4 linked regions of the Homo sapiens genome follow. The protein of the gene in region 2 purifies or fractionates together with the protein of the main gene of each other region. This does not show direct contact. Each region holds a gene or a part of one and is shown on either strand. Other genes may lie near its edges. The genes, in order: NIPSNAP1, PPP1R3B, PPP1R2 and PPP1R7.

Region 1 (3,572 bases), on a different chromosome or scaffold from region 2:
CTATGTTACCCAGGGTGGTCTCAAACTCCCGGGCTCAAGCGATCCTTCCACTTTGGCCTCCCAAAGTGCTGGGAGTACAGGCATGAGCCACAGTGCCTGGACTATTCACTTTTCTATTTTGGCATAGATGTCACCTCCTCCTGGAAGGCTGCCGAGATTTCCTCCACGCGGGCTGGGTCAGGCACCTTCCTTAGCTCTCCAGGCCTCAGTAATTACCTCCTCACGCCCTGATCATGTACCCCTATAGCTGCCTGTTTAGTTGTCTGTCTCCATATATGGGTGAATCCCCAATATGCAGCACATATTTGTGGAATAAATAGGAGTTCTTCTTGTCTGAGCTGGTGTCTTACAGTCCCAGGGGCACCCCTAGCATGCCCCATCCCAGCCTAATAGACACATCAAAGTTGGCACCAGCTATAAGAACCCACACATGAATTTGGCTGACTCACAGCATCTCAGCCACTCAAAGGGACCTCAAATTCAGACCCACACTGTCCAAAATGATAGCCACTAACCACATGTAGTTATTTATTTATTTATTTTTTTGAGATGGAGCCTCGCTCTGTACTGTCACCCAGGCTGGGGTACAGTGGTGCAATCTTGGCTCACTGCAACCTCTGCCTCCTGGGTTCAAGTGATTCTCCTGCCTCAGCCTCCTGAGTAGCTGAGGTTACAGGCGTGTGCCACCACACTTGGCTAATTTTTGTATTTTTAGTAGAAACAGGGTTTCACCATGTTGGTCAGGCTGGTCTTGAACTCCTGACCTCATGATCCTCCCGCCTGAGCCTCCCAAAGTGTTGGGATTACAGGCATCAGCCACTGCGCCTGGCCTATTTATTTATTTTTTTGAGACAGCGTCTCACTCTGGTTTCCCAGGCTGGACTGCAGTGGTGCAATCACAGCTCACTGCACCCTTGACCTCCCGGGCTCAGATGATTCTCTCACCTCAGCCTCCCAAGTAGCTGGAACTACAGGTGTGCACCACCACAGCCAGCTAATTTTTTATATTTTTAGTAGAGACAGGGTTTCGCTATGTTGCCCAGGCTGGTCTTGAACTCCTGGACTCAAGCAATCCGTCAGCCTTGGCCTCCTGGACTACTGAGATTACAGGTGTGAGCCACTGCGCCCTGGCCTCACATGTAGCTATTGAAATTTATATTAGTTAAAATTACATAAAATTTAAAGTTCAAGCTGTGTGCCAAGGTGCTCACCTGTAGTCCTAGCTACTTGGGAGGCTGAGTTGGGAGGACTGCTTGAGCCCAGGAGTTCGAGGCCGTGATTGAATACCATCACACCTATGAATAGCCACTGCACTCCAGCCTGGGCAACACAGTGAGGACCCTGTCTCTAAAAAAGAAAAAATTCAGGACTGAATATGGTGGCTTATGCTTATAATCCCAGCAGATTAGGAGGCTGAGGTGGGAGGAACACTTGAGGCCAGGAGTTTGAAACCAGCCTGGGCAACATAGTGAGACTTTGCTTCTATAAAGAAAATACATATTAAAAAAAAAAGAAGAAAAGATTTTAAAAAGAAAAAATTCAGTTTCTTAGTCATACTAGCTACATTTCAAATGCTCACTCATATACACACAGGCTCATGCAGAAAGTACTTTTGGACAGTACTGGTTTAGAGTGTCTGCATAGCACAGCCATAACAGATGGTCCTCTAAACTTCCCTTGAACACTCCTAGCCATGAAGAGTTCACTTGTAAGCCAATCTATTTCATCCTTTGACAGCCCTGATAATCGTGTCTTTGAAAATAATCTGTGACCTGCAGATAGATAGGTGTATCTCCTTAATCAATTATTTGGTTTCCGTAACAGACATTAACATATTATTTATGTTTTATTTTTATTATTTCCATTTAGAAACAGGGTCTCACTATATTGCCCAGGCTGGAGTTGAATTTCTGGGCTCGGGCAATCCTCCTGAGTAGCTGGGACTACAGGCGTGTGCCATCATACCTGGCTAGACACTGATATGTGGCTAAGGGAATAAGAGAAAAGCAAATTGCCTTCAGTTTCAGCCACTACAGCTTTCCCATTTTAAGCTTGACTTGATCAGCTCCAGCAGTATTCCTTGAATTCTCTTAAGCATTTGCTAGTTGTGAAATGAACTCTGAGGGATGGGATCCTGACTTTTTCTTTTTTTTCTTTTTCGAGACCGAGTCTCACTCTGTTGCCCAGGCTGGAGTGCAGTGGCGTGATCTCAGCTCACTGCAACCTCTGCCTCCCGGATTCAAGCAAGTTCTCTTGCCTCAGGCTCCCGAGTAGCTGGGACTACAAGTATGAACCACCATGCCTGGCTAATTTTTGTATTTTTAGTAGAGATGGAGTTTCACCATCTTGGCCAGGCTGGTCTCGAACTCCTGACCACAGTTGATCCACCTGCCTCGGCCTCCCAAAGTGCTGGGATTAAAGGCGTGAGCCACTGCCCCTGGCCTTTTTCTTCTTTTTATTTTTCTGTTTGGGACAGGGTCTCGCTCTGTCACCCAGTTTGGAGTGCAGTGGCATGATCATAGTTCACTGTAACCTTGAACTCCTAGGCTCAGGCGATCCTCTCACCTCAACTTCTCGAGTAGCTGGGACCACAGACATGCACCACCATGCCTGGGCTAGTTGTTTTGTTTTGTTTGTTTGTTTGTTTTGTAGAGATGAGGTCTTGCTATGTTGCCCAGGCTGATCTCAGACTCCTGAGCTCAAGTGCTCCTCTCCTGCCTCAGCCTCCCAGAGTGTTGGGATTACAGGCCTGAGCCACTGCGCCTGGCTGATCCTGACTTTTTAAAGCATACCCTACATTTTTTGTACCTTGAAGTTCAGTCCCTCACATAGTCAGCTGAATCATGTTGAGCTGTACGCTGGGAGTAGGGTTCAAGAATCTACATTTTAATAAACTTGTAAGAACCATTGATCCATCTCCTATGGAGAGCACCACAGTTGTTAGACAATTCCTTCTTCTTGGCTGGGCGCGGTGGCTCATGCCTGTATCCCAGCACTTTGGGAGGCTGAGGCAGGTGCATCACCTGAGGTCAGGAGTTCAAGACCAGCCTGGCTAACAAGGTGAAACCCTGTCTCTACTAAAAATACAAAAATTAGCTGGGCGTGGTGGCATGCGCCTGTAATCCCAGCTACTTGGGAGGCATAGGCAGGACAGTCTCTTAAATCCAGGAGGTGGATGTTGCAGTGAGCTGAGATCACGCCACCGCACTCCAGCCTGGGTGACAGAAAAATAAAGAAAATTCCTTCCTCTTGCCAATGATGCTGTCCTTGTAACTTTTCTCCGTTAATCCGTTTTCCACAGGTCATTCCTGGTTTTGGTAGATTTCTATCCATACAGTACTTTTGCCATTTCCTTTGGGAAAAAGACCTTTAAACCATAGGGTCAGGCCATTTTGCAGATGGGAAAATCAAGGCACAGATGGAGTCAAAAAACAGGTGAAGGTCAGGCTGGGGATGGGGATGGGAAGTTACAGAGTCTGAGTTTCTAGACTGCTGGCAGCCAGCTGCCCTTAGCTCTAGCTTGCCTGTGTGATCCCCTGGGGACCTTCCTCCGCTGATGGGCCCAGCCATGC
Region 2 (2,524 bases):
ACTATTAATAGCATAAATCGAACTCAAATGGAAGCAAAACTGATTTCATGCAGGTCCTGAATTTTACTTTGCCTTAAGAAGTGCCCTCCCCACAATGCAGGAGAGGCACAGAGTGCACTGTCATTGACATGTTACCCGACTAAGGATCACTCTGTTCATAAGAAAAAGGCCTGAAGTGACTCTGTTTAATAAAGTCAGTTTAATTTTATCTAATAATGATCTTAAGACATTCCCATGTCAAAATTTGAAATATGGTAATTCAGTGATAACTATCTCTTCTAAAGCAGCCGTAAACCCTCCCCACTACCCGTCTTTCTCCCAGCTCACCCTGGCTTTTTTTGCTGGGGGTGCTGGATGCAAGCCCCCAGCCAGCACACCTGGGATGCTCACCCTGCCGCACAGTTCAGAAGGCAAGTCCTCACCTGCTCGCAAAGACCCTTCTTCTCCAATAAAAGACTCTACTTGCCTGAGTTTCCTCATCAGGGCTGTCATTCAGTGATGTATGGGGGTCTGAAGAATACTGCCTTCTATCTGTCTTCTGTTTACCACTTGCTCCTCTGCTACCCTCCTGCCGCAAACAGTCTTCTTCCTTTTGGCCCAGTTCTGTCCCGTGAAATTCTCAGAAGGCCTCGGGAGCTGCGCTGATGTATTCTCTCCTTGTTTGATAGCTCATCATCAGTAGATAAGCCTACACACTTCAGAGGGTGACAGGTTTCTTACTTGGAGACTTCACTGCACCTTGACTTGTAGATTTGCCTTCAGACAGCTCTTGGTTATGGTTACAAGTGGCCCCCGAGTCCCAGAATCTTTCCCAGGTTGCCCCAGAAAGACCAGCCACCTGTCACAGGTGCAGTTGTCCGGCAATAGGGAAGCAACTTCATTTTTGTTTTATATTTATTCCCTCAAGTGCCCTGAGGAGCATTTGCAAACTGGGTACAATAAATAAGCTGGATTATACAAAGATATTTAATAAATAAGCTTTCAGTATCTATTGGAAGACATGAAGCATTTGAGTGGGTTTCTTTATTTAAAAAATTATTCTACTGGAGCTGGTGAGAAATAATGAAGCTGTACAGTTCTCCAGAAATTAAAACAATGTCAGAGTCAATGGGAGAATTTAATTTACCTTTAAGATTTCATTTTAATGGTGGCAAAATTATACATTCTTAGAAGATGTAAATTTGGAACTGTTAGGAGATTGCTCTGTGGTTTTGATCTTTTCAAACCATTTTCTTTTTGAAAAAAGGCATTAGTTGTAGTCATGGACATTAAATGGGCCATATATGCTTATCAATCAAAAAAGTGTTCCTTTTTTGGAACTGCCCATTTTCTGGATCTTCCCTCTCAATGGATAGGGGATGAAAACCTTGGTTGCCTTTTATTTGTTTCCTCTTCTAAAATTTCTCACCTGAATGTAGTCCTGGGAGAGTCCCGATCACGTCTCTCCTGACATGTTCACTGAAATCGGAGACAAGAAGTTACATGGATGATGGGATCTTATAGGGTCACACAAAGACAATTTGGCAGCTTATCTTAATTTCCTGCAGTGAGACAACACATGTGGAACTGGGAAGGACAGCTGTTGTTACGAGCAGTTTTTCCTGGTCATGGTTGTAAAGCTCTGTAACCCACATTGTAAAGCCGTGAATGTTTTTAGTCTTGTTGACGAGTTTTTAGAGACTGCTGGACCTCTGAGGGCTTTGAGAGTGCAGCTGTGATGATGTTTCACTATTACTTCAGTGTGAATGTAGAACCAAGGACTCATCTTCATTTTATACCTAAAAGTGCCTTGTCAAGAAATTTTTGCATGTTTTAAAAGATAAATATTTTTGTACACAGAGTTCAAGGGGAAATGCACTTTAAAAATCCCAAGAATGGATGTTCTTTGTGTGGTATGAGAGGTTGGTTTGTATCTCAAAAGCAAAAATGTAATAAAGGAAGACAAAACAAAACTGAAAGTGTCCTTCTATTCTTAGAGCCAGAGTAAGTGGAGAAACATTTCAAATCGATATGTTTCCACATGTAGATCTTAGGTTTCCAAAGAAAAAGCTTGCAGTCAATGGCTGAGTTAAATGTGCAAGGCAGAGAGGAGTTAATTGCTTTAGCATAGCTGAGAAGGTAAGTGCTAGGGAAGAGATACAGGAGCTAGTGTTATTCTGCACCCATTTTTAATGATCCTAGGTCATAGGCATTCTTACCCTGTCATTTGCACTTGAAGTACAGTGCAGACAGACGTATTCAAACAAAAGCAGGAAAACTATAAATGGCTACCATAGCTTTTAACTGCTTGAGCAAACAAACTAAGCAGCAAAACAAAACAGCCCCGGATAGGTAGCGGATAGTCACCCTAAGTGAGATTTCCAGAGCTGCTTTTTTCCAAAGTTCAGGACAAGATGCAGGCAGAGTGGGGGTGGGAAGCTGCATCTAGAAGTTCCATGTCAACAAGTCCTCTGCCACCCTGGGGAAGTGGGCGGTGGCTCCAGTGGAAAGGCAGAGTGTATTAAAGTTTAGCAGCTAGTGTGTA
Region 3 (3,572 bases), on a different chromosome or scaffold from region 2:
GTTTTTGTCATGCTTAAGGCTGCTTTTGTGTTCAATGGCAGAGTTGAGTAGTTCGTAATAGAGACCACTGGGCCCTGCAAAATTTAAAATATTTACTATCTGGCATTCATCTCAATGGAAGAACAAGAATATATCCAGCCATTAGAAATTATATTTGTGAAGAAAGATTAAAGCTATGGGAAAATTATCCAGAAAGAGTTAAATGGTGACAAAAGAGCGAGTTACAACACCATATACTATATTTACTATGTACAATGCCTGTCACATACACACACAGAGAGAAAAATAAGACTCAGCAATTAACAGTGTTTAATTCTGAGTCAAGGAACAATGAAGTAGTTTTAATATTTTATTATTTTCTATTTTTATAATTAAGAAAAAATCCTTTAAAACAATTCTTACCTGTTAAGAAACTGCCATGATTTAAGACATTGTTGGCTAAAAACGTAACCTCATTTTCAGAGTAATTTTAAGAAAAACGTATTATAAAGTAATGGTGAAGTGACTCCAAAATATTTCATTTTAGTCTTCACCATAGAAACATAAAGCTGGCAGCAACACAACTGATCACACTAGAGCAACTATTTATGAATACATAATTTTAAGGTTTTTAACTTCCTTAGATCAGAAAATTAAAAAAAAAAAAAAACAACAGAAAAGGGGGGGCCAATATAAAATTGCCAGCTATTTTACCAATGAACAGCATTAAAATTATTCACCGTTGTTTTATTTTTTCTTTTTTTCAAGATGGAGTTTCACTCTAATTGCCCAGGCTGGAGTGCAATGTGCAATCTTGGCTCACGGCAACCTTAGCCTCCTAGGTTTAAGCGATTCTCCTGCCTCAGTCTCCCGAGTAGTTGGGATCACAGGCATGTGCTACCACTCCTGGCTAATTTTGGTAGTTTTAGTAGAGACGGGGTTTCATCATGTTGGCCAGGTTGGTCTCCAACTCCTGACCTCAGGTGATCCGCCTGCCTTGGCCTCCAAAAGTGCTGGGATTACAGGCATGAGCCACTGCGCCTGGCTTCACCATTGTTTTATTAAAAATTTCATCAAAATATTTCAATGTCAAAAATGCACAGAGGCCAGATGCTGGGGCTCATGCCTGTAATCCCAGGAGTTCAAGACCAGCCTGGGCAACATGGCAAGAACCTATCTCTACAAAAAAATTACAAAAAATTAGCTGGGTGTGGTAGTACACGACTGTGGTCCCAGCTACTGGGAAGGCTGAGATGGGAGGACTGGCTAAGCTTAGAAGGCTGAAACTGCAGTGAGCCGCGACTATGCCACTGCACTCCAGCCTGGGTTGACAAGTGAGACCGTAGCTCAAAAATTTATTTATTTACTTTTTAAAAAGCAGAGACATCTCTCAATAAGGGTATTTACAGTACTTTCTTCTTTTTTTTAAATTTTAATTTTTAGAGATGAGATCTCACTGTTGCCCAGGCTGGCTTCCAACTTCTGGGCTCAAGCAGTCCTCCTACCTCAGCCTCCCAAGTAACTGGAACTACAGATGCGTGCCACCACACCTGGCCTCCAAAGTACTTTCTCTTTGTTTGATTTTTACTAGAGACGGGGTTTCACCATGTAGGTCAGGCTGGTCTTGAACTCCTGACCTCAAGTGATCCACCTGCCTCAGCCTCCCAAAGCACTGGGATTACAGGTGTAAGACACCGCACCTGGCCAGTACTTTCTTAATTCCCTAAGCTTTTATCAACATCTATACTTATATTTTTAAAACTTATACTGAAGTCCGGGCGCAGTGCTCACGCCTGTAATCCCAGCACTTTGGGAGGCCGAGGAGGGCGGATCATGAGGTCAGGAGTTTGAGAACATCCTGGCTAACATGGTGAAACCCCGTCTCTACTGAAAATACAAAAAATTTGCTGGGCGTGGTGGCACACGTCTGTAATCCCAGCTACTCAGGAGGCTGAGGCAGGAGAATCACTTGAACCTGGGAGGTGGAGGTTGCAGTGAGCGAAGATCGCGCCACTGCACTCCAGCCTGGGCGACAGAGCAGGACTCTGTCTCAAAAAAAAAAAAAAAAAAAAAAAAGAACTGCAATAATTACCCAGTTTAGACAATAAAGTATATGAACATACAGTAAACATTCTGCCATAATGATTTATGTAATTTTAAAATCGTTACAAGTTGTTGAGTCATAATTTAATTCCCTATTTTTGGTTAAAGATTTCTGATTTCCTTCATGTTTTCAATGTTTCTTTTGGTTTGTTTTTATTTTGTGAAGGTATATCAGCAATTTTCAATGTTTTTAAGACTATATATATAAAATATATTGTGCATTTGTTCTATTATTTTCTCAGTATGAGCCAGTGTTTTTGAAACTGTGCATCATGATTATTTATGTACTTATTTATTTTTTTAAAGACAAAGTCTCACTCTGTCACCCAGCCTGGAGTGCAGTGGCATGATACCGGCTCACTGCAACCTCCACCTCCCAGGTTCAAGCAATTCTTGTGCCCCAGCCTCCCGAGTAGCTGGGATTAGAGGCGCCCACCACCATGCCTGGCTAATTTTTGTATTTTTAGTAGAGATGGGGTTTCGCCATGTTGGCCAGGCTGGTCTCAAACTCCTGGCCTCAAGAGATCCTCCTGTCTCAGCCTCCCAAAGTGCTGGGATTACAGGCATAAGCCACCAAACCCGGCCATCATGATTCTTAATAAGTCATAACTAACATTTAAAAAGGTTAAGGCAGACTATTTATATGAATACAACAAGTGAATTATTCTTTTTATACCTACTTTTACTTTTTATGGGGGAATATCTTAAGTTGTTAAAAGTTAGTATTTAGTGAGTGCTCACAATATGCCAAGATCAGTGATAAGTGCTTTAAATGCTTTAACTCATTTAGTAGTCACCAAAATATTTTTACAGCTGCCAATTTAGAAATGAGAAAACGGAGGCTCGGAGAAATTATGCAAATTAGCCAAGTGGCATACCTGGAGCACAAACTTAGGTTTGTCTGTCTTCTTAGACAATAATCTTAATTGTTATGCTGTGAGTTACAGTTTTTCTCCCTAAGCTATCTACTGTCAATAGACAACAATTTTTCAGCCACGTAACATCTATATAATTCAGTAATAACCCCACCAGTGGAAAATGAATTAATGAAATTATAATTAGTCAAATGGCTCCCCCTGCTGGTTGACTCATGAAATCACAACTTGAGAAAAACATCCCTCAATTAAAACTGACATTAACAAAAAATTCCTTATTCTCAACAGATCATGTTTTTAGAGAGTAATGAGGAAACAAACTCCAGAAACTATTTCTATTTGAAATACTTTTCAAGGATCTTTTGGGGTATATTTTGGGAAAATAAATGGAAAGTCACTGAAAGTTGAGATACAATACAACTTGAGAATATGCTACATGTAAAATTTCTCTCGTACAAATATTAGGCTCAGCCCATCATAGCTCTGTTGAACAGGCTATATTCTGAAGATGATAGGAAAGACTAGTAAATGATATCTTAGCAGCTACACGACAAAGATCCTTCGTTCTAAAGTTTCTCAGCTTCTTCACGGTACAGGAGGTAGTCCCTACGCCAC
Region 4 (3,572 bases), on a different chromosome or scaffold from region 2:
TAGTTTAGAGTGGTAAGTCGAGACGTGCCTGCAGTGGAATGGCGCTGAGGACTGTGTGGCAGGGGCTGGGGTTGGGGCCGGGTGGGGTGCGCAGCAGGGAGCCCTGGTGCCCTCCTGCACCCTGGCCTCCCTGAGCCAAGGCCCTGCAGTCACCACCAAGCATCCACCGGGAGACAGACAATCTGCAGCACAGTTCACATAAGCAGCCAGTCCCAGGAAAACTGGAAAGAAGTGTGGTTCAGAATTTTACCAGTAGAAGTGCTACACTGTGATCTTGGTTAAACACCAGATTATTCTTGGGCCTCTGAAACAAAACAGAAAAAAAAAAATTGTTGTATTAAAGGTAATTACGTTATTGTAATCTTCATCATGATCAAATGTGACAGTCTTTCTTCTGCCATTTTTTTCAACTAAAGATCAGACAAATATTTTCTCCTAAGTTTTGTTTCTTAATTTATCTGGAATTTATTTTTATGGTGGGAAATAAGAAAGTAAATGTAGTTTTGTCCCAGGTGGGAACTTAGACGACACCCCCCATCCCAGTGTCTCACGACTCCTGTCTTGTTCTTCGTGTCTTCTCCAGCTCTGGGCTCTCCCGTTGGTCTAGAATATGTTTGCAGTGGTCCCTGACAGGTGTAGTTTCTGTGGCGTTGTGTCATGCCCTTTGGTGTGCCTGCTCTCCTCACCCTGTTCCATTCTTTTTTTCTGTTTCTTAAGCAGTTCTTACTAGTTTGCTTTTGGATGAGTTTTCACAACATTGTCCAGCTCCTGTAGAAAAACGTGAAATAGTGTTGAGTGCCTACATGGATCCCTGAGCTCAGAGGTGATGGACCGGTTCTGACAGCCAGAGCCCACCACCGGCTCTGCCCCTCGTGCTGAGCCTTGGTGCTTGGACCTCACGAGGCTCAAATCCTGCGTGTGTTCCAGGCCACTTTCATTTTGCCAGTTTCTGGGCTTGCATACCAGATGACCATGAGCATCTCAGAATGGTGCAGAGTGCGGGGGAGAGCTGCCGTCCGTGCTAGAGAGGCCTGTTCCAGCCCCACCGCCAGGCGGTGTGTCGTTGGATTACCCACAGTCGCGTCTTCTGCAACATTTTCCTGCAGTCCTTTTTGCTCTGAACCCGCCCCACTGAGCTCCCTCGCACACTGTTGAGCCTGATACTCTGTGAGCAGACCTGACCAGGGCACCGAGATGGGGTGGTTTGAAGGCACCTCCTAGGCAGCATGCCACGTATAGCCTGCTGGAGAGTGGCGTCAGACTTGACACACGCAGCTGGTGCCAGCTGGGGTGCTGGGCGCCAAGGCAGCAAGGGTGGTACAGCCAGAGGAGCTCCCAGGCCACAGCCATAGCGCTTTCGAATTGGGAAAGCTACTGGCTGGGTACATTTCAGGGGAGATGGGGGGAGGAGTATTTGCTTTTGAGAAATTTTTTAACTTTCCCTTAAAACTTAGAAGGCTTTGGAATTGGAATACCAAAAATGCAGTAGAAAACCAAGGAAGGGACTCAGGAGGGAGCAGAGCGTGAGGGCAGAGAAGGGAATGAACTTTGTCAGAGGTTCTCAGACAGCTTGTAAATGTTTTCCTTTTGATGAGAAACAAAATTATTACTCAGGCTTAGCTAACATGTATTGGAAAGTGAGTAACTGATGTGCATTTTCAGAGTAGAAGATCCTAAAAACACACTCTTGTCTCCCAGTGGGGGCACACACCCTGCAGCAGGTGCTCAGCAGGCCCAGCACCCAGTCCTCAGCATGGGTCCCTTCTCTGCACTTATGCTCCCGGGACCCTTTTCCCAGACAAGAGTGTAGGCCTGGGGTCTGAGAGTCCTGCCTCTCCCACTGCTACTGTGCGCCTGGGCAGATTCTTAGCCCCACTGAGCCCCAAGTTCCTCATCCCTAAATGAAGAGAGGAACTTTGTTTTGAAGATTACTTGGTCGTACATTTCCTCGTGATGAGCACTAAGTAAATGTTTCTACAATTGTCAGCCTTTCTTCAGAGCGTCAGGGGGTTACTCGGTTCTTCCTGGGACCATCAGTCTCACTAGGTCTGTCTCAATGGACAGGGATCTGGGAGGACTGGGCTTGGAGTCTGACACAGTCTCAAATTCCAGCGATCAGGAGAGCTCAGGGAGATAGCTGGGCAGGCTCTGATGGAAACACTGTCCCAGGGAGGGCTGCAGGAAGCAAGCAGGTCTCGTCACCCTCCATAGCATGCCCTTACCCTGTGAGGGCAGAGAGGGCAGTGCACCTGCAGCCCTAAGGTCAGCACTTGACACTGCCTGCGTGGTCATGCAAATCACTGTTGATCAGAGGTAATCCAGGAAACATTTTATTTCCTTCTTTTAGAACAAACTCACGATGTTGGACATTGCATCAAATAGAATCAAAAAGATTGAAAATATCAGCCATCTAACAGAGCTGCAAGAGTTCTGGGTAAGTTTAATACACGCTGGGGTTGATGACACTTTGACTAAACTGGTCTCACTGATTAAAATGTCTTATGAATGAATACAAGAATCTCCTGTAAGCCTTCATGCTGAGTGACTCCGCACATCATGAGATTTGGGGTGGGCGCTCTTGTAGACTTGTATTGGGTGTTGTCTGTGCTCCTCAGCGTGAGCCACAGATCAGCAGCATTGACATAGCTTGTTAGAAATGCAAAATCTTGGGCCCCACCATAGCCCAGATGAAAACTGAGTCAAAATCTTTGCTTTACAAGACTCCGGGTGATTGCAGTACACACAAAGGTTGGAGAAGCCCTGATCTAGGTATGGGTAGAACCTACAATTGTCATTTGACCAAATGGTTTGCAAACCTCAGCAGAGAGGCAGACGCATTCCCTACAGATATATTCCAGCACAACAGAAGGAAATGTTGGATGGGTTTCTGCAGTTAGTCATCTTGGAATTTGCCTTGTATTTGTCTTGTCACAGGTATGGTTTCAGGAGTAGTGTTGTGGAGTCAGCAGGAAGAGAAACAGAATATAAGAAGTTTTTGCAGTTCCTCTAAAGGGGTTGGGAAATGATCCCCGAGTGGAAGTCTTCAGTGCTAGGATTCCCTTAGAGAAATCTCCTAAGGTTTATTGCCTTTCCGCTAGCACGTGGCCCTGCAGAGACTGCGGCACAGGTGTCACCCTGTGATGCTGGGAATGTAGTAGTGTCCTCAGATACATTCAGTCTAATCCAGGATTCATGCTGAGTGTAAGGCATCATTCTTCCTTGTCTCTCCTCTAGCCGTGCTGCTGACCCTGCTTATGTCCTGTGCTTTCTCCTTTCCCCACTTTAAAAGGTCATCCAAGTTTCCCTAGAACACAGGTGGCCTGCTGCAAATGTTCCTTGCCCCTTATTAGTGGCACTGGGTCTTGAGTAGTGTCATGATGGGATACCAGAGCATGTCTGGGAAGATCAGAGCCAGAATTTGGCAGGTGATAAAGATGTACCAGGCCAGGGGGAGCCTCAATGAGTCCAGGTGGGTCTATGTGCAGCCCACCCTTGAAGGAAGGTGTGGCTGGTGGTAGGCTGGTTGAATTAGTGCATAGGGAGTTGGCAAAGAAGCCAGGGAACAACACAAA

Evidence for each region.
Region 1: the proteins of PPP1R3B (region 2) and NIPSNAP1 purify together in Homo sapiens (co-immunoprecipitation; one large-scale study listed by IntAct). This does not show direct contact.
Region 3: the proteins of PPP1R3B (region 2) and PPP1R2 purify together in Homo sapiens (co-immunoprecipitation; one large-scale study listed by IntAct). This does not show direct contact.
Region 4: the proteins of PPP1R3B (region 2) and PPP1R7 purify together in Homo sapiens (co-immunoprecipitation; one large-scale study listed by IntAct). This does not show direct contact.

Annotation. Positions count from the first base shown.
Region 1 is NC_000022.11:29,564,101-29,567,672, reverse strand, and holds part of NIPSNAP1 (protein NipSnap homolog 1), read left to right. Parts: intron 1-3,572.
Region 2 is NC_000008.11:9,135,683-9,138,206, reverse strand, and holds the end of PPP1R3B (protein phosphatase 1 regulatory subunit 3B), read left to right. Parts: 3' UTR 1-1,952; downstream 1,953-2,524. UniProt on the Homo sapiens protein: Acts as a glycogen-targeting subunit for phosphatase PP1. Facilitates interaction of the PP1 with enzymes of the glycogen metabolism and regulates its activity.
Region 3 is NC_000003.12:195,519,284-195,522,855, forward strand, and holds part of PPP1R2 (protein phosphatase inhibitor 2), read right to left. Parts: intron 1-3,572. UniProt on the Homo sapiens protein: Inhibitor of protein-phosphatase 1.
Region 4 is NC_000002.12:241,167,434-241,171,005, forward strand, and holds part of PPP1R7 (protein phosphatase 1 regulatory subunit 7), read left to right. Parts: intron 1-242; exon of another isoform or gene 243-304; intron 305-2,347; coding exon 2,348-2,434; intron 2,435-3,572. UniProt on the Homo sapiens protein: Regulatory subunit of protein phosphatase 1.